2 linked regions of the Homo sapiens genome follow. The protein of the gene in region 1 purifies or fractionates together with the protein of each later gene. This does not show direct contact. Each region holds a gene or a part of one and is shown on either strand. Other genes may lie near its edges.

Evidence for each region.
Region 2: the proteins of RHOQ (region 1) and PACSIN2 purify together in Homo sapiens (affinity purification with mass spectrometry; 2 studies listed by BioGRID and IntAct, with this or other methods). This does not show direct contact.

Annotation. Positions count from the first base shown.
Region 1 is NC_000002.12:46,570,010-46,580,489, forward strand, and holds part of RHOQ (rho-related GTP-binding protein RhoQ), read left to right. Parts: intron 1-6,077; coding exon 6,078-6,242; intron 6,243-6,551; coding exon 6,552-6,647; intron 6,648-10,025; exon of another isoform or gene 10,026-10,229; intron 10,230-10,480. UniProt on the Homo sapiens protein: Plasma membrane-associated small GTPase which cycles between an active GTP-bound and an inactive GDP-bound state. In active state binds to a variety of effector proteins to regulate cellular responses. Involved in epithelial cell polarization processes.
Region 2 is NC_000022.11:42,869,465-42,881,644, reverse strand, and holds the end of PACSIN2 (protein kinase C and casein kinase substrate in neurons protein 2), read left to right. Parts: intron 1-1,022; coding exon of another isoform or gene 1,023-1,028; intron 1,029-2,475; coding exon 2,476-2,597; intron 2,598-4,634; coding exon 4,635-4,757; intron 4,758-5,311; coding exon 5,312-5,508; intron 5,509-6,114; exon of another isoform or gene 6,115-9,153; intron 9,154-9,185; exon of another isoform or gene 9,186-9,660; intron 9,661-10,141; exon of another isoform or gene 10,142-10,175; coding exon 10,176-10,288; 3' UTR 10,289-11,872; downstream 11,873-12,180.

The sequences.
Region 1 (10,480 bases):
AAAGTGTTTTCAAAAAGGACCCAACCCAGCTTCCTTGAAAAACAGAGTTATTTTTAAAGAGGTAAAAACTGATATTTTCATTTCACAAAGTTAAATATAAAATGAACTCAAAAGTGTCAAAATGACTGCACAATAGAAATGAGGTTTCAGGCCAGGCGTGGTGGCTCATGCCTGTAATCCCAGCACTTTGGGAGGCCAAGGGAGGCGGATCACAGGGTCAAGAGATTGAGACCCTCCTGGCTAACACGGTGAACACCCGTTTCTACTAAAAATACAAAAAATTAGCCAGCCATGGTGGCAGGCACCTGTAATCCCAGCTACTCAGGAGGCAGAGGCATGAGAATTGCTTGAATCCGGGAGGCAGAGGTGGCAGTGAGCCGAGATTGTGCTATTGCACTCTAGTCTGGGCTATAAGAGTGAGACTTCATCTCAAAAAATAAAAAAAAAAAAAGAAATGAGGTTTCATAGGCTACTCTGACCAAGCATTACCATAGACATGTTGTGATATATAAGTTAGATGTAGGAGAAAACAGTTGCATTCTCAGAAGCTGGCTTCATGACATGTGTCCTCTGGACTTCTGTGTAGCACCCTTTGAAGGGTGGAGGGTTTCAAGAGCTCGATGCCTGTTTTGGACTTCTCGCTAGAAACAGATGTTGTAGATGAAGATTACTACTGTGTGCCTTGGAAGTGACACAGAGAATTGCTACTGCACAGACCACAAAGCCACCACTTTTCAGGGATATTCTTACTTAGTTGTCATATGTTTTATGTCTCTCTTCACGTAGTCAGAAGCTGCTTTAGATTTGGGAAGGCTGGGGCTTATCTGTTACCCCTTGTTCTAGGTTGTTTCTCATTCTAGGTTGTTACAGAGGAAAACTCTAGTAGGTTTTGATAAATGACTATTTCTTACATCAAAGTACTATCCTGCATTATTTGGGATTGTAATACATTCCTATAGTACTTTATGGTCTTCAAAGCATTTGTCACTGATAAGTCTCCCGTTTTTCAGACAGAGAAACTAAGGCCCTAAGGAATAAGGGACTGGACTAAAGTCGCATTCCTAGCATGTTGGATACGTTCAAGTTCTCTCCATTCTGTAAGGACCAACTCAAGTGCCTCTTCCAAGAGGTCTTTTCTTAGTGTCCCCTCATTACTACTTTTTATATTTACCACATTCTAACTTGTAATATCATGTTCACATACATCTTATCTACCTTACCATGAACTTCCTAAGATCGAAAGCTGTTATGCATTTGTGTGTATCTCCTCACCTATCAGAATTGTTCTTCTTGGGTGCTAACCTGATGCACGTTCCCACACCAGCCTGCAGTTTCCTCTTCTAGGCTGTGGCTTGGAGGTCTGCAAGGCGCTGGAGTGGTGTCCAGGCACATTGTGGGCACTGCTGCACATTCAAGTGCATTGCCTTATTTTTAACATATAGATACTTAATGAGAGAGCTTTGTAAATGTTTATAAGGTGTTTTACAAATAGATGTTATTTGAATCTCATCCTTCCCTCCTTTATTTATTGCAGTTAGCACTGTTCTGGGCACATAGTAGGTGCTTAGTAATGTTTGTTAAGCATTTCTATATTCACTTGCTCCAGCTTACACTTTTATTCCCTCCTATTGTTGTATATGACTGTCTTTTTATATGTTTATATCTTGAATTCCCAACTAAACTGCAAGCTCCAGAGGGCTATAGTCTCAATAAATCTTTGCTGATTGCTTTTAAATAATACATGATAGCATACCAGCTAACAAAGCATGGCACAAGGTAAATCGTCCAATGTGAGTGTTTTTATTTAAGAAATGTTTTGGATATGTATTTTAAAATAGACATACACATCCCAAAAACATATATTTTAAACAGAGATCACTAAGGTAGGAGGGAACACCCAGGTCCACATGAAGGGGACAAAGAATAGTGCAGAAGTAAGGCTCATGGGCACTGCTGGCTGAGCTGCACACAGAAAGGGGTCTCCAGCTGATGGCCATTGGCTACATTTCTCTGTGGCATTGGAAGAGCTTTTGTTTCCTCTCAGAGCGCATTTCTTTAGTTTTTTGTTTGCAGATTCTTATCAGGTGGTAAGTGTGTGTTTTTTTTTTTTTTTTTTTTTTTTTTTGAGACAGGGTCTCACTCTGTCACCCAGGCATGTTCATGGCTCACTGCAGGCCCAACCTCTTGAGCTCAACTGATCCACCCACCTGAGCCTCCTGAGTAGCTGGGACTGCAGGCATGTGCCACCATGCCCAGCTAATTTTTGTATTTTTAGTAGAGACAGGATTTCACCACATTGGGAAGACTGGTCTTGAACTCCTGGACTCAAGCAATCTCCCCACCTCGGCCTCCCAAAGTGCTGGGATTACAGGTGTGAGCCACCGCACCTGGCCATGTGTGATATTTTTAAAGTAAGGTTGTCATTATCACATATCGAGGACTCTTCAACAAGGGACAGCCTGAACACTAAGCTGCCAGAACACACTTAAAAACTTGATACTTCTGGTACTTAGCCAATTGGTAAGAAGCTAAAGAGTCTGCCATGCAGTCCAACAGCCATGCTGACTAAACTCACCAGTTCTTTCATTGTTTTGATGTTGAACAGCTGTCTTTAATACACTTTTCTGTACTCCTGAGAATGTTCTAGTTACCATGCTGAAATGTTTAAATACCTACATTTTAAAATTAGAACTAAAATATAATGGGTTTGTTAATTAGGAGGACACTGGAGAGTTGGCTGTGAGAAGTTGTGACTTTGATAAGTCGATCTTTTAAAAGTAAGGGCAGTTGCTCTACATTTGACTTCTTTGTGTTCTCAAATTTAAAATATATGGCTGAAGATGAAAGATTCTGCACACCTCCACTTATTCATTCCCAAATCCCACATTTCATATTAAATTCACACAGGATACTATGTGATGCATATGAACCATTTTATATGATGCAGGGTACAGTATGCACAGGGGATAATTTATTTTCTAAATTTGCTATTATTAGACTTCTAATTACTCAGCTGGATAGAAGCAGAAAGGTCTCATTCTTGTACTAACTGCCGATTTTTTTTTTTTTTTTGAGACGGAGTTTAGCTCTGTTGCCCAGGCTGTAGTGCAGTGGTACAATCTCTGCTCACTGCAGCCTCCACCTCCTGGGTTCAAGTGATTCTCCTGCCTCAGCCTTCCGAATAGCTGGGATTACAGGTGTGCACCACCACGGCCAGATAATTTTTGTATTTTTAGTAGAGATGGTGTTTCACCACATTGGCCAGGCTGATCTTGGACTCCTGACCTCAAGAGTCCCACCTCGGCCTCCCAAAGTGCTGGGATTACAGGTGTGGGCCATCATGCCCGGCCACTAACTGCCAATTATTTAGCCAGAGATGACAGGCAGAAGGAATTCATTTTAGATTGTTCAGACTTAAGAAGTAACATTTCTTTCCAAGGAGGTCTAAACATATGTGTGTTTTATTTTTTAATAGCCCCAGTTCTTCACATTTTAATTAATCAAACAAAACCTGCAATTTAAGAAATATCTAGAAATGATTGGTCCAATTGTCCTCCTTTGTGCTCACGTCTCTCATGGAGGAAAGTCAGGATTCACTGTGGTTATGAAAGGAATCTGTACAATATATTTACCTTCTGTAAAATACTTGGATTAATATTGTTAAGCATCTCTAGGGAACATGGCATTCAATTAGTTTTTATTTCTTGTCATCTCTCACTAGAGAAAGAGCGCACACTTCTGTTTCCCTGAGGAGGTAAACTTGCTTGAAAAGTAAAATTTCCATTAAAATCTCTAATTTGGCTTTCTTAAATATAAATCTATTTTTGTTACATTTTAAATAGTCTTAAGGCTAAGTGACTAATGAGTACAGTAATAATATATCATTCTCTTTTATTCATCTGAAAATTATACTGTCTCGAGAGACCTGAGTTTTGTGTGTTTTGATTTTATTTCTTACTAAAAGACTTCTCTGTGATTGGAGGGAGCTGCAAAGCTGAGGCAAGTGTGGGACTCAGGGGACCCTGCGTGGATTTGCAGAGGAATAAGAGACTTGGTTTCCCATGGGATAGAGAATTTATGTTTAAGCATTGAAAGAGTTCTTCGATGTGCGAGGTGTTATGCGGAGTGCTTTAGTTGCACTATTTCATTTATTCCTCATAATCCTAAGGGATAGTATCCCCATTCCTATTTCTGTGAAAATTGGAAATCTAAATATGGATGAGGAGTGCTTTTTAATGAGAACACCCCATTTCCCGGCCATGACAACTGCATGTTTGCTCAGAAGTGTGGAGTTGCTGGGTGGGATGCTAAGATGACATACTGTTTCTTTTTTTTTTTTTTCTTTTATGGACTTGCAGTTTGAAACAGGCAGTAGAGCCCAGAAAGTACATATAAGGCACTCAATTGTACTGTTTAACACAAGCTGATTTTTAAAAAGTTAAATTTTCAAGAAGTCTTCCTCTAGTAACTGTCTGGGGGTATAACGTGTTTCATACCCACCCTATTTGATCTCTTCATTGTGAATTTCTTAACACCAGGGCACTGCTTTAATCAAAACCATTTAGAGGCGTTCACTTTAAAAAATAAAAGTTGCAGAAGATTGGGGGTGGCATTTCCCCTGTCGTCATGTGATAGCGAACACCTGAGAAATCTTTTAATGCCCACAGCTCTAGATTATAGGTGTGCCCTTCAAAAGCATCACAGAAAAACAAAAGGGTTACCCACCAGTCAAGGGTTTGGGACATTAACATGCTTTAGTTGAAAGTTATATTATGAAAAATGTCAGAAAAATGCATGAAAGGAAAATTGTTCCATGAGGGAAATACTACTGCTGAAACTCCAAGTGGAAGATGATGTTTTTAATATTCCCTTAGTTCCACATTTGTGTAGTTCTGTAGTGAAACGAGTCATTTAAGAGGGGAGGTGGCCCAGGCTAAAAATAAAGTTTCTTTGAAACCAGATGAGAGTCTAGCTATGCCAAAAATGGAATCCGGACTCTGTTCACTCTCGAGAATGTAAATAAGTAGAATTTTGTGTCACATAAAATAGTCTATGCAAAAAAGGATATTCACTGCCTTTTGTGATAGAGACTAAAATAACCATCAGGAGTATAGCTGTTCTGGGGACTCTGAAGCAACAGTGTAAAATGATATGGTAGTCTAACGTATTCTGATTTAGAAAGATGTCCAAGACAAAGAAAGTGCAGAACAACAAGTACTGCATGATTTCATTTTATGTACAGATGTATGAATATGTGCAGTTACTGGTATATTCATGCATAGAAAAAGAACTGGAAGAATAAACATGAAAATATTAAGTAGAGGGAATGAAAGTTGGAGAGTAAAGGAGGATTTTGGTGGGTTTACTGTGTATGTTTCTCTTTAAATCTTCACACACACACACACACACACACACACACACACACACACACACAATTAATAAAACTATAGAAACAAGGAAAGCAAAGCTTGAAGGTCTCAGTGAAGCTGTATAGTGGTTAAGAGTATAGACTCTGGAGTAAAAACTGCCAGGATTTGAATCTCAGCTCCTTGACTTACTGGCTACACATCCTTACGCAAGTAATTTAACTTCTGTGCTTCAGTTTACTCAAATGAAAGTCAGGATTAAGGGTACTTGTGTCATATTGTTGTTACAAGGATTAAATAAGTAATCCATGAGAGAGCATATAGACTAGTGCCTGACACATAGTAAATATTTAGCATGTATTAATTATTATAAATTATAATACTTAGGCAATGTCTAGCTATATTCAATTCTTTGTGCAAACTTTTTAGTTAAAAATGTTTTTAGTGACAGCGTTAGTGATCATAATGTATTTTTCCAAAGTTTTCATTGTCATTGTTAATGATATTGTCATTTTTTTTTACCTCATGGGTGTTCAGAACTTCACAAAGAAGAATAACAAAAACAGAGTTATCTGATTTTACTTAGAGTGCCATACATTCCACTAGTGGAGTACTCCTGAATTTGCATCTTTGACCATGTAATCTAATGTACATATTACTAGTAAACAATAGAAATGTAAATACATAATGAGGCTTTTCTTTGTTCCTCAGGAAGACTATGACCGTCTGAGGCCTTTATCTTACCCAATGACCGATGTCTTCCTTATATGCTTCTCGGTGGTAAATCCAGCCTCATTTCAAAATGTGAAAGAGGAGTGGGTACCGGAACTTAAGGAATACGCACCAAATGTACCCTTTTTATTAATAGGAACTCAGGTATGTCTGGTTTGATTTTCTGCATTTTAGAATAAGCTCTTTGGTCTGTCGTAGAGGCTGCTCTCAGACAAACAGTCCCAAAGCTGAGCAAATGATGTAAGTGTTTAATCTCAGCTGCAAGTTAATGAGTTCTATCATATTTTTGGAAAAAATTGTGCCAAAAGAAAGCAATTATTTTCCTGGTTTTTAAAAATTAAGTTCTTTTGTTTAATCTTTTTTTGGTATGTGGGAATTAAGTGGGATTACATGCTTTGATTTTTCTTTAAAGATTTGTAATATTATGGGACATTATTGACCTTTCTTAATTAGATTGATCTCCGAGATGACCCCAAAACTTTAGCAAGACTGAATGATATGAAAGAAAAACCTATATGTGTGGAACAAGGACAGAAACTAGCAAAAGAGGTAATGGAACACTCACAGAATTTAAGCATGAATGTAAAAGATGCTAAGATAACAATAGAAGCTAATTTTATTGTGTATTTACTGTGTGCCAGGTGGAGTGCTTTACATGCATTATCTCATTTAATCCTTGCATGAACTCAGTGAGGTAGGTCTGTTTCCCCTGTTACACAGAAGAGACAGTGGAGGCTGGGAGATGTCAGATAATTCGCCCAAGATCCTGCAGGTAATAAATGGCAGAGTTGGGTTTCAGTCCAAAGCCTGACTCCTGGGCCGAGACTCTTACACCTTTGCTACATTGCCAGTGATATTTTCCTAAAAAGTCACATATGGAAAAAAGCATCGGAAACACGTGTCACTACTTTCAACCCTTCTTCATTACTTAAACAGTTGCACTGTGCCAAATCAGCTCTGTCTTAAGACTCATTGAGTTAGACAGTGGAGCCACCTAGGATGACAGTTTAAATTTGTGGTTAAAACCAAAAAATGATGACTAGGTTTGAAAAGAAATGTGTTGAAATTTCTCCAATCTTTTTATGAAAAGAGGATAGAAAATACAAAAATTCTAAAAATATATGTAACAGTGATGCATGCAATACCTTGTAGCTTATCTTCCTTCGTGCCCCAAAGATAGGTTTACTTTTTCCCCTTTTTTCCCATTTGGCCTTAACATTATTGGATTCTATTTTTTAAATGTTGTGATTTCAATAGGACTTTTGTGGAAACAGAATCCATATATGGTCTTTTTTTTTTTTTTTTTTTTTGAGACGGAGTCCCACTCTGTGGCCCAGGTTGGAGTGCAGTGACGGGATCTCAGCTCACTGCAAGCTCTGCCTCCCGTGTTCATGCCATTCTCCTGCCTCAGCCTCCCAAGTAGCTGGGACTACAGGTGCCTGCCACCACACCCGGCTATTTTTTTTTTTTTTTTTTTTTTTTCATTTTTAGTGGAGATGGGGTTTTACCATGTTAGCCAGGATGGTCTCGACCTCCTGGCCTCATGATCTGCCCACCTCATCCTCCCAAAGTGCTAGGATTACAGGCATGAGCCACCGCGCCCGGCCCATATATAGTCTTTTAAAATGTAGTATCAGGAGGCAAAAGAAAGCAAGAAAACTTTCTGGAGGACAGTTTTTCCTAAAGCAAAAAATAAATGGCTTTACTAACAAATCACTTCAGAAATTCCATGTATTCAGTTTTGTAATCTTGGGGAGAGAAGGAATTTCTAAATGTCATAAAGATAAAAGCCATAAATGAAAATATTAATGATTTCACTGCATAAAAACTTAATACCACATCAAATGCCAGAAATAAAATGAAAAGTCATATAACCTGAGATGGATGGCAGAAAAATGGGTTAACATCCTTAGTATACAGGAACCTCTTGCATATGAGTTAATCAGAAGCAGCCACAGATACCAATAGAAAAATGGGCTAACAATGAAAAATTCACCCCCCAAAATGCAGATTGCCATTGAAGATAGGAAATATGTTCAAACTTATTAGTAGTCAAATGTAAGCTCAATTTGCACCTATAGAATTGGCAAAAAATGAGAAATTAATTATAATACCCGTGTAGTAAAATGGACACTCTGTTGTACTATTGGTCATTGAATCAAAGCAGTCTTGACAGTATGCAAAATCCTTAAAATCATGGACACTTTTGATCAAGCAATTCCATATGTAAGAGTTTATCCTAAGCAAATCATTAGGATGTTGGTCAAAGTGTACAGTGTTAGGAGGAATACATTTTTTGAGATAACACTGCACAACATGGTAACTACAGTTAATAATGGTGGTGCTGGGCACGGTGGCTCACACCTGTAATCCCCGCACCTTGGAAGGCTGAGGTGGGTGGATCGTTTGAGCCCAGGAATTCGAGACCAGCCTGGGCAACATGGTGAAACCCCATCTCTACCAAAAAAAAAAAAAAAAAAAAAAAAAAAAAAAAAAAAATTAGCTGAGCATGATGGTGCATACCTGTAGTCCCAGCTACTTGGGGGGCTGAGGAAGGAGGATCACTTGAGCCCAGGAGGTGGAGGTTGCAGTGAGCCGAGATAGTGCCATTGCACTCCAGCCTGGATGACAGAGTGAGACCCTGTCTCAAAATAAATGAATAAATAAATAATGGTGGACTGCGTATTTCCAAATTGCTAAAAGAGTAAATTTTAAATGTTCTCACCACACAAAATGATAAGTATTTAAGGTGATAGATGTTAATTATGTTGATTTAATCATTTCACTCGTGTGTGTGTGTGTATATGTATATATAGAGAGAAAATATTGCTTTGTACCTTATATAAAATTATAATTTGTCCATTTATAATATTTAATAATAAAAGTAAATTATTAGGGACGTACTTAGAGCTACAAAGATGCTGAATTGTTTATAATGGCAAAAATTCCCTGCATCTATTAAAACTTCATACTATCTGTTAAGATTTCATATTTATTATGTAGCTAAAGGGAAAAAAGTAGTTGCAAAACAGTATGATCTCATTTCTAGACTCATCAGCATTTGGCACAGTTGCGTCCTTCCTGAAACTTTCTTCAGTTGGACTCTCTTGGTTTTTCTCCCCTCTCATTGGACTCTGCTCCATCTCTTTACCTCCTTGGTCCCTGGTTGGAGGGCCCCAGTGATGAGCACTCAGCTTTGTGGATGTCTTCTTCTATAGCTACACTCCCTAGGCCTAAATGAGCTTCTGTCAGTCTTGTAGCTTGCACAGTCTACAACCAAAGATTCCTGGATTTCCATCTCCAGCCTGGACCTCTTTCCTAAATTCTCAATTTGGTTATCCAGCTGTTTACTCAACAAGTCCATCTACATGGCTGAGTATCTCAAAATTAACATGTCTAAGATATGATTCTTCTTTTACCCTCCAAGCCTGTCCTCCCAGTTACTCAGGTCAGAAGCCCTCAGCTGGGTGCAGTGGCTCACACCTGTAATCCCAGCACTTTGGGAGCCCGAGGCGGGCAGAATTACCTGAGGTTGGGAGTTGGAGACCACCCTGACCAACATGGAGAAACCCCATCTCTACTAATACAAAATTAGCTGGGTGTGGTGGCACATGCCTGTAATCCCAGCTAGTCAGGAATCTGAGGCAGAACCGCTTGAACCCAGAAGGCAGAGGTTGTGATGAGCCAAGATCGAACCATAGTACTCCAGCCTGGGCAACAAGAGTGAAACTGTCTCAAAAAAAAAAAAAAGCCCTGAAGTCGTACTTGACCTTGCTCTTTCTCCCATACCACACATCTAGCCTTCGGCACAACATACCTTCAGAACATATCCAGAATCCAGACACTTTTTTCTAACTCTTCCCTCTATCACCTGGTTCAGACCTCCTCCATCTCTGGCCTGCTTTACTGGAATAGCTTCCAACTCACCTTTCTGCTTCTGTCTATGCCCCATGGTCATCTGTTCTCAACACAGCAGCCAGAGTAAGTCTTAAAAATGTAAGCGCAATCATGTCACTGCTCTGCTCAGAATCCTCCAGTGGGTCCCCAGCTCAGACTAAACGCCAAAGTCCGCACAGTGGCCTACAAGCCTCTGTTCCCTCTCTGCCTTACTCATTGTTCCCCAGGCCTCCTGGTCTCCTTTGTTGTTCCCTCAAAGTTCTACCTGAGAACCTTTGTACTTTTGTTGTTCCCTCTGCCTGGAATGTTCTTCCCTATGGACATGATTCATTCTTTCACTCTTTTCAGGTCTCTGCTCAAATACCACATCCTCAGTGTGATCTTGTTCCTTGACTGCTCCAGGCATGCTCCTGCATCAGGATCTATCTGCCTGGAGCTCTTCCCCTAGGTATCCCTCACTGCTCAAACTTCCCCATTGAGAAGCC
Region 2 (12,180 bases), on another chromosome or scaffold:
ACATTCGAAATGCAAGGGCCTGGGGATCTCAGGACTCACCTAGCCCTTGGATTGGTCACTAGGCCCCACCTGGCACCCTGAAGGCAGTGGGCAAAGGTCCTGGTGCCCCTGAGGCTTAAGCACGTGGCGTCAGCTGCCCCAGCAGGGATGCTGAGGGCGACTACCTCTGCTGTGGGCGTGGGCCTCGTGGCTTCCCCGACTCAGCAGCGGCCAGAGCCCGGGCTGCATTCAGATTCTGCTCACCTCTGACCACCTGTGGGAAGCTGAGCAAACTATTCGCCCTTTTTGTGACTCAGTTTTCCCACGTGTGGAATGGGAATGACAAGAGCACCCATCTCCTGTCGGGGGCTGTTAGGGAACATGGTGACTTTGTCCACGCAGGGCTATTGACCCAGGCCCACCACTCAGAAACCTCCTGGGCGCCTCATAGCCTGCAGTTTTGTCAGTCCTTACTCCTGCACTTCTTTTATGGCCCTTAACAGGAAGGTTTTTCCAAATGACAGTGTGGGCCCTGCTGCCGAGCACTCCCCTGCGCCAGCCCCAGGACTTGCTCCCAGTAGGAGGCAGTAGAGCAGCTGTGCCCCTTCCACAGAGGCACTGAGAGAGCATGGAGGGCCAGAGCCGTCCTGACTGGAAGCGGCCCTAGAGGGGACAGCACAAAGCCCAGCCTCTCCTCTGGAGCCACACACCAGGAAGTCTTGGCTGACGTGTTTTGTGCACAGCTGGGGTTTCAGACACAGCGAGGATTTGCTGCTCCCGGAGTGGCACAGGAAACCACCTGTGAAATTCGCCTGGGTCCCTTAGAGGTGCCCATTATACCCAAAGAGGGGCACAGTGGGGAGGACTATTTGACAGTCTGTCTCCTGGAGGGTGTCCCAGCCAGAGCCTAGGGGGTCCTTCTCTCTGTGGGTCCATGGGCTGGGAACCAGCCCCTGTGCATTCATTCTGCGCACATTTGCAGCTGTTACGGGACCATGCCTTTCTCTAATGCAATTCTTTGTTTTTATTTTTCATGCCACAAGGATGAAGTAAGTGTCTGCGTTCGGCTACCTCATAGAGTGCCATACGCCATGCAGGGTGTCTGTGGCCCGCATGGGTGGGTGTGCTGCCCCCGCTAGGCTCCTAGCAGTTCAGCTGAGGCTGCGCTGCTGTCAGGGGTATTGAGAGCCGGCCCTTCCCATCAGTGCCGGCTTGGTGTTGATCCCATTGGCCTTTGGAAGCCACCCAATCAGGATGAATTTATATTCAGAGGTCACTGTGGAGAACTCTGAGGTTCCAATTGAGTTCTCAGTCAATCTATTTTGGTCAGAAAATAATTAATAGATGAAAAGGTGACCCAGATTTGGGGTCGGGCCCAAGTCTGCCACCCACACTGCGTGGGCAAATCACATTGCCTTTCTGGGCCTCAGTTTCCTAATCTGACAAATGGACAGGTTAGACAGGATGCTTCTGAGTTGGCTTCCAACCCAAAAGTTCTGTAAGTACGTGTGAGCAGAGCCGTGGACTCAGCCACACCAAGTTTTAATCAGAGTTGTCTGGTAACTGGTGGAGATGGGGGGAAGGAGAGCTCATTAAACACCTGCGGGCATGCACAGACTCTTCTAGAAAATCAAGACACAGTCTCCATTCATGGTTTTGCCCTAGTCCATTTTCAGTGCGGTTGGTGAAGCCAGTTCGCCACCCGAGAACTCGTGAGGCTTCCAGGAGGAGCGTACTCTGCTTTGCTTCGTTAGCCCCAGCATGTGCTCAGATCACAGAGGAAAAGTCCCAGGGCAGCAAAACACTGGGGAGGGCCCTGCGCTTTGGAGACTGAGAGTCTGCTTGCCTGCCCCTTCTGTCAGCGGGTAGCCACCTAGCCCTGGTTTTATTTGCAGTGGCTTTATTTGCACCTGGTTTTATTTGCACCTGCCTTTCCACATGGCAGGCTTGCTCAGGTCTCCGAAGCCAACTGTCTTGACCCTGTGGCCCAGGGACAATTTAGGGCATCGACGCAAAGGATCTTCAGCACTTCAGGACAGGTGCCTCAGAGGCTGGCTCCTGTCTACTTTGGGAGGCTCAGCAGACATCTGGGGAGGCCACAGGGGCCCATGCTGGCCTGAGGGGGCTGGGACTGAGAACCTTGGTGGGTGGGGTCAGGAACAGGAGGCCCCGGACCTTGCCCTGGTCCTCGCCACCCCCGCTGGTCCTCTGGGAGGTGGGCAGCATGGCCTGGGGGTGGTTGTAGAGGTGCAAGCCTCCAGATCCCCTGATGAGCCCCTGCTTTGAACAGTGAGGAGGGGCTCAGGTCGTTTGGGTTCATAAGTGGGGCATGGGGAGCCTGAGGTCTTCTGGGAAACCAGGGAGAGCTGGGGCCCTGAGTCTACACATCAGATGCACAGAGCCAACTGCAGGCTCGCTGGGCAGGAACTGAGGACAGACGTGGCTTCCAGCAAGTAGTGAACCTTTGGTTTCTCTCCCTCGGCACCTGTTGCCTAGGAGTGGTCCGCAGACCTGAATCGAACCCTCAGCCGGAGAGAGAAGAAGAAGGCCACTGACGGCGTCACCCTGACGGGCATCAACCAGACAGGCGACCAGTCTCTGCCGAGTAAGCCCAGCAGGTGAGTGGGCGCCACCTCCATCCAAAAGAGGCCGTTCCATGGTGGGGGCCCTGGGCAATCTGCATGGTCCAGGGCAGCCCCGGCCTGGACACCTGGGAGGTTCCTGGGCTCCTGAGCTCTGTGGGCCGTGGCCCAGCCTGGACACCTGGGAGGTTCCTGGGCTCCTGAGCTCTGTGGGCCGTGGCCCAGGGGCATCTCCAGGGAAGGTCGTCTTCCTGCCTGGTGCCAGAGCTGCTGACAGATCCAGAGAGGGAGGCTTGGCCCTGAGCTTCAGACCTGAGTGGGGAGGAGCTGATGACAGGGCTGGCATTCATGTCCCCAGGGATAGCACCGCCCTGCCCGGACACTGGTGGAGGTGCCACCCTGGTTCCCTCAGGCAGCTGAGGTCCTGCCGAGGTTCATGCTCACTCTGTATTGTGTGCAGGCGCCAGTCGAGGGAGGGACAGGAGAGGACTGCCAGGCATCTCCTTTCCAAATTACCTCTTCACTAGGAGCATTGGTTATTTCTGACTTAGTCATTGGCTGAAAATGAGAGATATAAGGGTGGCACTGTGGTCATTAGAACCTTCTGGAAAGTGTGTGCTAGAGGAGGTCTTCCTATAGGACCTGCCCACAGGCCTCCATGTGACACTCAGTAATAGTCATTTCATACGGGGGCTTCCTAAGAAGGCTTAGCCCAGGTTCCCTTGGCCTTCCTGCAGCCCCAGGCACTGAAGCCCCCACCCAGGCTCCCCAGCAGGTGTGGCTGTCGTCATTCCGCTGCTTTGCACGCTGTCTGGGCAGGTGGGCTCGGCAGTAAGTGCCTGTCCCAGGGATCAGGCCAGCACCTGTATGCTTGGGGGTGGGAATGGGAAAGAAGAAACACTGCCTCAGAGGAGACCCTGGGGGCCCTGGGCTGGCCAGGGTTGCTGCACAATCCAGCCGCCCCCACCAGTGCCGTCTCACAACAGTCTGCTAGAGAAAGGTGCCAAGGAGGGAGGAGGGCCGGTGAGCTCAGACATGTGGCCTGGATATTGGCCTCCAGCAGGCCTAGGTCAAGTACCACTTGCCAGGCTGAAGTGGATGAGGCAGTTACTGGCCACTCAGGATCACCCTGGTGGCATTGGAGGCATGTCCTCGCCTCCCTTCCTTGGTTCTGGGGTGGTGGGTGCTCAGGCTGAGCAGTCCATCCAGTGCTTTGGGGGCCTGTGCCCTGAGGCCCTGGTCTTGGAAGTAGAAGGTGCTGCTGGCCAGGGTAGCCCGGTCCTAGGATCAGTTACTTGGTGGGGTGCCAGGGCCCTTGGTGCCTGTCTGATTGGATTGCTTGATGGTCTGCCTGTGGTCTTCGTAGTGTGTAACTCAGCTCCCGGCTCCCAGCCCTCAGGCAGAGCTTGGCCCAGATCTCTCTGGTTCCCACACTGGGCCTGGCAAACAGTAGGCAGTTGCACGACTGGATTTTCCCTCTGGAGCACCAAAGGAATCTTCTTTCTATCTAGAAAAGACGGTGCCGCAGGCCCTGGCCCTGATTTTGGAGGCTTCAGCTCCACAGAGCAGAAGAGCGAGCCCTGAACCCCTTAGTAGTCAGGAGGAGGCCGTGTGGGCTGAAGAGCTCAGAGCCCTCTCCCACTCATCCATGGGAGCCGGCCCCTCCCACACTGTCACTCTCAGAGGAGACCCTGAGGGGCTTTTTGACCCCCCCAGCTCACATTGGTGGGAGTCAGGACAGAGGAGAAGCCCTGAACCTGGAAACGACTTTTGCTCCAGCTGTGGCTTGTCACCCGCCCCTGGGCCACCCCAGGGCCCCTGTTCTGGACGGACTGTCTCCAGGTGCAAGGAAGGAAAAGGGAAACCAAGTCCTCTCCTAGGCTCCTGGACCGTGTTTCACAGCTGAAGTATTGCCCGCATTCTGCCATAGTAACCTTTCTGTTGAAACACCACGGTCCCCTCCGGTCACAGGAGGAGCTGATTTGTCTCTTGAGATCCTGCAGCTAGGAGTTGCCAGGACCCTCACGGGCCCCTGCAGAGCTGGGATCCCCTGAAAGCTCTCTCTCTCCATAGCACCCTTAATGTCCCGAGCAACCCCGCCCAGTCTGCGCAGTCACAGTCCAGCTACAACCCCTTCGAGGATGAGGACGACACGGGCAGCACCGTCAGTGAGAAGGACGACACTAAGGCCAAAAAGTTGGTGAACAAATGCTTCCTCTGCTCCCACCGCGCTCACTCTGTCTCTCTTCCTCTCTCTCTGTCCAGGGGTCTCACCCCTCGGCACTCGGCAATGCACGGAGCTCTGCAGGAAGTGGGCACCTGGCGTGCCGCACCCTGGCCCACTACCTGCTCTCTGGCACAGGCTCTCTGGCACCCCCATTCCTCGGGGAGGGCACAGCTAACAATCTTAAGTTGCTTTTTCTCTGTCCTCTGTTAACCCTTCAAGGCCCTAGCAGCACCATGACAGGAAAACAGACAACGCGCAGTCTGTGCTGGGGACTAGAGAGTGAGGCCCCAGGTTGGCCTCTGCTGTGGGCATCTCCAGCCGCCTGCCCCTGGAAAGCCTGTTGATGGCTCAGGATGAGTGTGGATGGCATGAACTCACACTAGCACTGGCTCCACCTGTGCTCCTTCGGAAGGAGCCCTCAGCCCTGAGCCCCAAGGCTCCAGTGCCCTCCCCTTGCGGGGCGGGGGCCTCACACCCTCTGCCGCCCTGTGCTGAGGGCCCTGTGGCCTCCCCTTTCTTGCAGTGTGAGCAGCTACGAGAAGACCCAGAGCTATCCCACCGACTGGTCAGACGATGAGTCTAACAACCCCTTCTCCTCCACGGATGCCAATGGGGACTCGAATCCATTCGACGACGACGCCACCTCGGGGACGGAAGTGCGAGTCCGGGCCCTGTATGACTATGAGGGGCAGGAGCATGATGAGCTGAGCTTCAAGGCTGGTAGGTGGGCTCCCCCAGCATCCAGGGGAGGAGGGCTTCCAACCTGCAGGCTGTGGGCGGTCTTTTTTGTTTTTTAAGTCTGGAAAAGTTCTTGCTAGTTTCACTTGTGAGTCACTGCAGGCCCTTCCCCAGTGCCCTGGCTTCATTGTCAAAAGCAGCCAATTGGCTGGATGTGGTGGCTCATGCCTATAGTCCCAGAGCTTTGGGAGGCCGAGGTGGAAGGATCGCTTGAGCCCAGGAGTATGAGACCAACCTGGGCAAAATGGCAAAACCTGTCTCTACAAAAAATACAAAAAATTAGGCCAGGCATGGTGGCTCACGCCTGTAATCCCAGCACCTTTGGGAGGCCAAGGCAGGCAGATCACTTGAGGTCAGGAGTTCGAGCCCAGCCTAACCAACATGGTGAAACCCTGTCTCTACTAAAAATACAAAAATGAGCCAGGCGTGTGGCGGGGCATCTATAATCACAGTTACTCAGGAGGCTGCGGCAGGAGAATCACTTGAACCTGGGAGGTGGAGGTTGCAGTGAGCCAAGGTCACACCACTGTACCCCAGGCTGGGTGACAGAGCAAGACTTTGTGTCAAAAAAAAAAAATTAGCTGGGCTAATTTTAGTGGCACATGCCTGTAGTCCCAGCTCTCTGGGAGGCTGAGGTGGGAGGATCACCTGAGCCCAGTAGATTGAGGTTGCAATGAATCATGATTGTACCACTATACTCCAACCTGGACAACAGAGCGAGACCCTGTCGCAAACAAACAAACAAATAAATAACCTGGGCAACAGAGCGAGATCCTGTCTCAAATAAATAAACAAACAAAAGTAGCAGATTAGCTGGGCGTGGTGTTGCATACCTATAGTCCCAGCTGCTTGGGAGGCTGAGGCAGAGGATCACTTAAACCCAAGAGGATACAGTGAGCCATGTTCATACCACGTACTCTAGCCTAGAAGAGAGAGCAAGACCCCATCTCTTAAAAAAAAAAAAAAGTAGGCTGGGCATGGTGGCTCACGCCTGTAATCCCAGCACTTTGGGAGGCCGAGGCACACAGATCACGAGGTCAGGAGATTGAGACCATCCTGGCTAAGAGTGTGAAACCCCGTCTCTACTAAAAATACAAAAAATTAGCCGGGCGTGGTGGCAGCCGCCTGTAGTCCCAGCTACTCGGGAGGCTGACGCAGGAAAATTGCTTGAACCCGGGAGGCGGAGCTTGCAGTGAGCCGAGATTGCGCCACTGCACTCCAGCCTGGGCGACAGAGCAAAACTCTTTTTCAAAAAAAAAAAAAAAAGCGGATGCCCAATGCCAAGACTCAGAAATAGTGAGGTGCTGCCAAGCCAGTGCCTGGACTCCTCACCTTGCTGGGCCAAGGCTGTGAATTGCAGGGCACTGGCTAGTCACACAGAAGGGCATCTGGAGAAGCTGTTGGCCAGGACCACCAGGTTCCCCCATATGTAGTCTGGGAGCTGCTAGCCCCGCAGGGCCATGAGAGAAGCCTTTCTCTAGGGGTCCCCAACTGCCAGAGAAGCCCTCAGGAGAGCCACAGCTTTGCCCAGACCCCAGAGTAGCACTTGGCATGCCCCTGGGCCAGGTGGGGCCTTGTCTCAGGCAGCAACTTGTGTGTGTGCACACCTACCTGCCCACACCTACCATGCACACACCAACCCACACACATATCTGTGTTGCTAGGAGCAGAAACCATAGTTTTATAAAACAGCCTGGATCCTGATTACATGTGCTCTGCCTGTGAAGACTTTCTGTGCAATGTCTTTTTCTTCTTTGAATGGTCTTCAATGATAATCTTTTTTTTTTTTTTTTTTAATAGAGACACGGTCTCACTCTGTTAGCCAAGCTGGGTTACAGTGGTGCGATCATAGCTCACAGCAGCTGCAGCCTTGATCTCCTGGGCTCAAGCAGTCCTCCCACCTCAGCCTCCTACGTAGCTGGGACCACAGATGTGTGCTACCACCCCACCCACTATAGGAATCTTTTTTAATGCATTTGCAGTTTACCAAAATGGCTTTTCACATCTTCAATTTGAAAAGTGTTATCTTGTCCGGGCACGATGGCTCACACCTGTAATCCCAGCACTTTGCGAGGCCAAGGCCGAAGGATCACTTGAGGTCAGGAGTTTGAGACCAGCCTGGCCAACATGGTGAAACCCTGCCTCTATTAAAAAATAAAAAAATTATTCAGGCATGGTGGCACACACCTGTAATCCCAGCTACTGGGGAGGCCAAGAGAATCACTTGAACCTGGGAGGTGGAGGTTGCAGTGAGCTGAGATCATACCACTGCACTCCAGCCTGGGTGATGGAGTGACACTCTGTCTCAAAAAAAAAAAAAGGAAAGAAAATTGCTATCTTAGCACCTAAGGAAGCTGGAGTGGCCTAGGGCCAAAGTGGACCCACAGCAACCCAGATTCTTCCCTCTCTTGCCCTCTTTGTGAAGCTCCCCCAGAAGCAGCATCTACCACTCCAAGAGGGAAGCTGGGCCAGAACTCAACCCACACAGGCTGAAGTGTGCCCTTGCCCCTAGGCTACACTTGTGGGAAAGGCTGCCTTACCACCACCACCCCAACCCCTGACTCAGCAGGGAAGCCAGGGCCTGGGGGCTGTGCCCAATGGCCTAGCTTCTAACCAGTCTTCAGCCTCCTCCCCTCAGCACCCAGAGTGCCAGCCTGCTGTCCCCAGACACTCTTCCCCTGGGCTGGTTATCAGCTGCCTCTGCCCAGTTTGAGAAGTTGGGTTTTTTTGTTTTTTTGGATTTTTTTTTAATGTGCCTTTAAGCCATCTTCATCCAGTTTCTGATATCTTTGGTTGGGGTTGTTACCCCCGACTTTGTTGGTTTATTTGTTTATAATTTCTAACTCCTTTTCAATCCTGCCTATTGGGTTTGACAGTAATTTTGTAGATTTAAAATGTTTCTTCCAGATCCAAGTAAATTGTCAAAAGCAAACTGATTGAAATGAACCTTCTAATCACCAGTTCACATTTGCACAATGTGAAAGCTTTCCTGTCCGTTCTATTTTCTGTGTTATCCTGCTTTTTAACAATGCAAAATTAGCTCCCAGCCAGTGTGGCTTGACTTACGTCTCTTGCGGTGTTCTGGCTGTTTGCCACATGGTAGTGTGGGGTTACAGGCCTCATCCTAGCCTCGGTAGCCTGGATCCAGGCCTGTGAGAGCACAGCAACCAATGAAGGCAGGACAAAAGAAACGCCAGGGGCCCGAGGCACGAAGCGGTGGAAAGAGATGGTGGTTCATCGTGGCTGCTGCCCTGTGGCCCCTGCATCTGCTCCTGATGCCTCTGGGTTAGATCTGCAGGCGCACTGGTCTGGCAGAAGCGGCACGACAGTGGGAGGCTGAGCCAGTGCTTACGCATGTCCCACCCTCCCAGGGTTCTTTAGTGTCTTAACACTTAATCTTCACAGTACCCCCAGTCCACAGATGAGGGCCACAGGCCCAGGGAGTGGACGCAGTTGGTCCAGGTCTCCCAGCCAGTGAGTGATGGCTGTGGGATTTGAGCCCAGGCAGTCCGGGGAGCACTGGAAGCCCCAGGTATTAGCTCCGCAGGCATGTTGACCAGCATTGCTGCCATACAAAATCCAAAGCATCAGGGAAATGCTAAACCAGGGGGAAAACTGCATCTAATTCTGAAAAATGGACCAAAAAATGCCAAAGAGAGTTACAAAACTTCAAACTTAGCAATAAAGGCAAAACAGCACTGGGACTATTTCTTTCCCACCAATTGCTTGCTCCTGACGAGGTCCGAGCCAGCAGGCCCAACTGGCCTTCCCTGCAGTGAGTTACCAACCAGAAGCACACAGGCCCCTGCCCACCCCTGGGCTCTGAGCTGCTCTGCTTCCCTAACCTGGCAAATGCCAGACCTGGGGCCCTACCCTAGTGCCACCTCCCCCTCACCACCCTAGTCTGCCTCCTTGAGACCAGGATCCATCAGTTCCTCTCATCTCTGTATCTCCTCTTCTACCCAAGGCCTGGCCAGAAGTAGGAGGTCCTTCAGGTTGGAACAACCAAAGATAAATGGAACCACGTTAATACATTAGAGCCACAGGGAGATTCCAGAACAGCGCCAGGGGCTCCTTCTCAGGGTCTCAGGAAGGGTTGACACATGGCACCGTGCACAAGTCATCAGCCAGGTGCTGGGGATAAAATGACAGGTATGACTGTCAGACATGGTCCCTTCCCCTCGCAGCCTGGAAGTTGCAGAGGAGAGGGATTAGCAAAGGCAGAGAGACCCCAGAGACAGCTGCTGGGAGCAAGGCGGCCGGGGCCCTGGGGAGGGGACAGAAGAGGCCCAACGTGAGGGAGGGGCACAACCGAGGGACGATTCCTGCCACCTGGCCAGGGTGGTGAGGAAGGCACAGCCCTATGGAGCTGGATGCCGCAGTCTCAGTGGGAGCCACTGTGGCAGCTGAGAGCAGCTTGTTCCAAATTACTGTGTGAGACTGTCATCTCTAGGTCTGTCAGAGGCCCATGACCAAAGAGGCAACTTAAAATGCATGCATTTAGTAGAGAAATGACCAGGCCCTCGGCCTGCCCGCCACAGAATGCCTGGCCCTCCACCCTCTGTGGGCTCAAAGCTCGTGAATGCGGCTCTGTAGCCCACCGTCGGTGTCATACCTCTCATGGAGACGGCTCCCTCTTTGTCTTGCAGGGGATGAGCTGACCAAGATGGAGGACGAGGATGAGCAGGGCTGGTGCAAGGGACGCTTGGACAACGGGCAAGTTGGCCTATACCCGGCAAATTATGTGGAGGCGATCCAGTGATGAGTCGGGGACAGGCCAGCGGGGGGACGGAGGCGGCGGGCCCAGGAGCCTCAGCCAGCCACGTGGGCATCCACTCCTTTTCCTGCAAGAGATGATGGTTCCATTGCTCTTGGCTTCATGGTGTTCCTGGAAGGCAGATGAGCTGGTCATTTCGCCTGGGACTCGGCACCTTTCCGAGTGCAGCTGGAGGGATCTGAGCGCAGGAAGACGCAGAACAACAGAAATAGCCGCCCCTCCCCGCCCACTGTGCCTGTTGGCCTATCATAGATCTCTATGTTCTTGACTTTGTCTCTCCTTTCCGAGTCAATGGTGGGTTACACTGATCTTGTTCCACTGATTACTCTCTCTGACGAGTCCATCACCTGCAACTTAAATGAACAAGCTTACATCCCATTTTGAGTGAAGATTTTGAGGTTTTTAATTTAAAGGCTGTGTACAGTTATACTTTTTTATACACCTGTTCATTTCTACTTAAATTATGGCACAGATTGATGCGCACCAGTCTTGAGGAAACGATCTCCCTATTCCCTTACCCTGTTACTCAGCCACGCCGTGTGTAGGCTTAGCCTCAGGTGGCAGATGTTTGAGGAAAGGAATTATGCCAGGAAGGTGGGACCGGGTTATGGTCGGGTTTCTATTGGGAATGCTCTTTGTGCTTTTGGGCATCTGAATGGAAGCTTTACATAGAACCTTAGGTAGAACTCCCCCAAATCGCCATATTTAAAAATTATTTTCACTCTATTCTTGCTTAAAACTGTACTCTTTTGCAAATTAACAATTTTATCACTGATTCAGAGTTAAAAAGAAGACTAACTTTTCAAGCAAATGCATCTGTAAAGATGCTTTAGATTAGACTGTCATGTCTCAGTGTCTATCTGTATATATTATTTGATATTCAGAGAATCTAAAGCACTCGTCTACTGTTTTAATGAGATTTAACAGCTTTTAACAGTGAGTTTCGTTTGTAAACTGCTTGAAGTCTGTGGCATTCAGGCACACGTCTGGCTGGCCGGCTGGGTCTCCTCCCGGGCTCAGTGGGCCTGGGGCCTCTCTGACGTGGTGCCTGCTGGAGGGAGGCTCGTCGTCACCAGCTGACTGCTGGTCCGGCTTCTGACCGGCCTTTGTCCTGGCTCCGTAGCAGAACACTGTAAAAGTGCCCGCGTCTTTGCAGTAGTTGCAGATTTCAGTCGTCGTGTTACTTGTGCACAAACAGAAGCTGGGTCTTACCCGCAGCACGAGTGTCTCGGGCTGCCCGGAGTCGCCCGGGAGCAGGTGCTGCAGCCAGAGTTACGCGGGGGCCACGCGGGCCGGCGGGGGTGGGGGGAACGTGGGGGAACCTGTGTTTCACGTGACTCAGCAGTGCCCGCCGCCGTCACCAGCTATGCATTCACTCCGTTTCCAGTGAGCAGATGTCTTGCTTGGAAAGTGGACCTGTGTCTGTGTCTGTCCTGAGAACTTACCAGCAGAAATCCTCATTTCTGTGCTACGGATTTACCAAAAATTGTCAAGTCTTTTTCAGTTTAACAGTTCCTTTACATGTGTAGTATTTGAGGAAAAAAATCAATAAACAGTTGATCTCGTGCATATGGAAGTCCCTTCGCCATCATCTGTCTTCATGCCCACTTCACTTGGCGGGGGTGGCCTCCCTGGGGCTTACTAGCTTTGGAGCTGGGCAAGATCCAGGGCACAGGACCCCTGCCCAAAAGGCCACGGCCCACTGCCCCTGCCAAACTGGAGGTTGGGGATTTGAGGCACCTGAGCCCCTTGGGGTTCCCTTCTCCCCGAGACCTGCTGCTGTTTGACCTGGGCTTCCACATGGTGCGGGCATCGGCTGGCGCCTCTCTATTGCCCCAGCCCAAACAGCAGGACAAGACTGACATCACCCATAACTC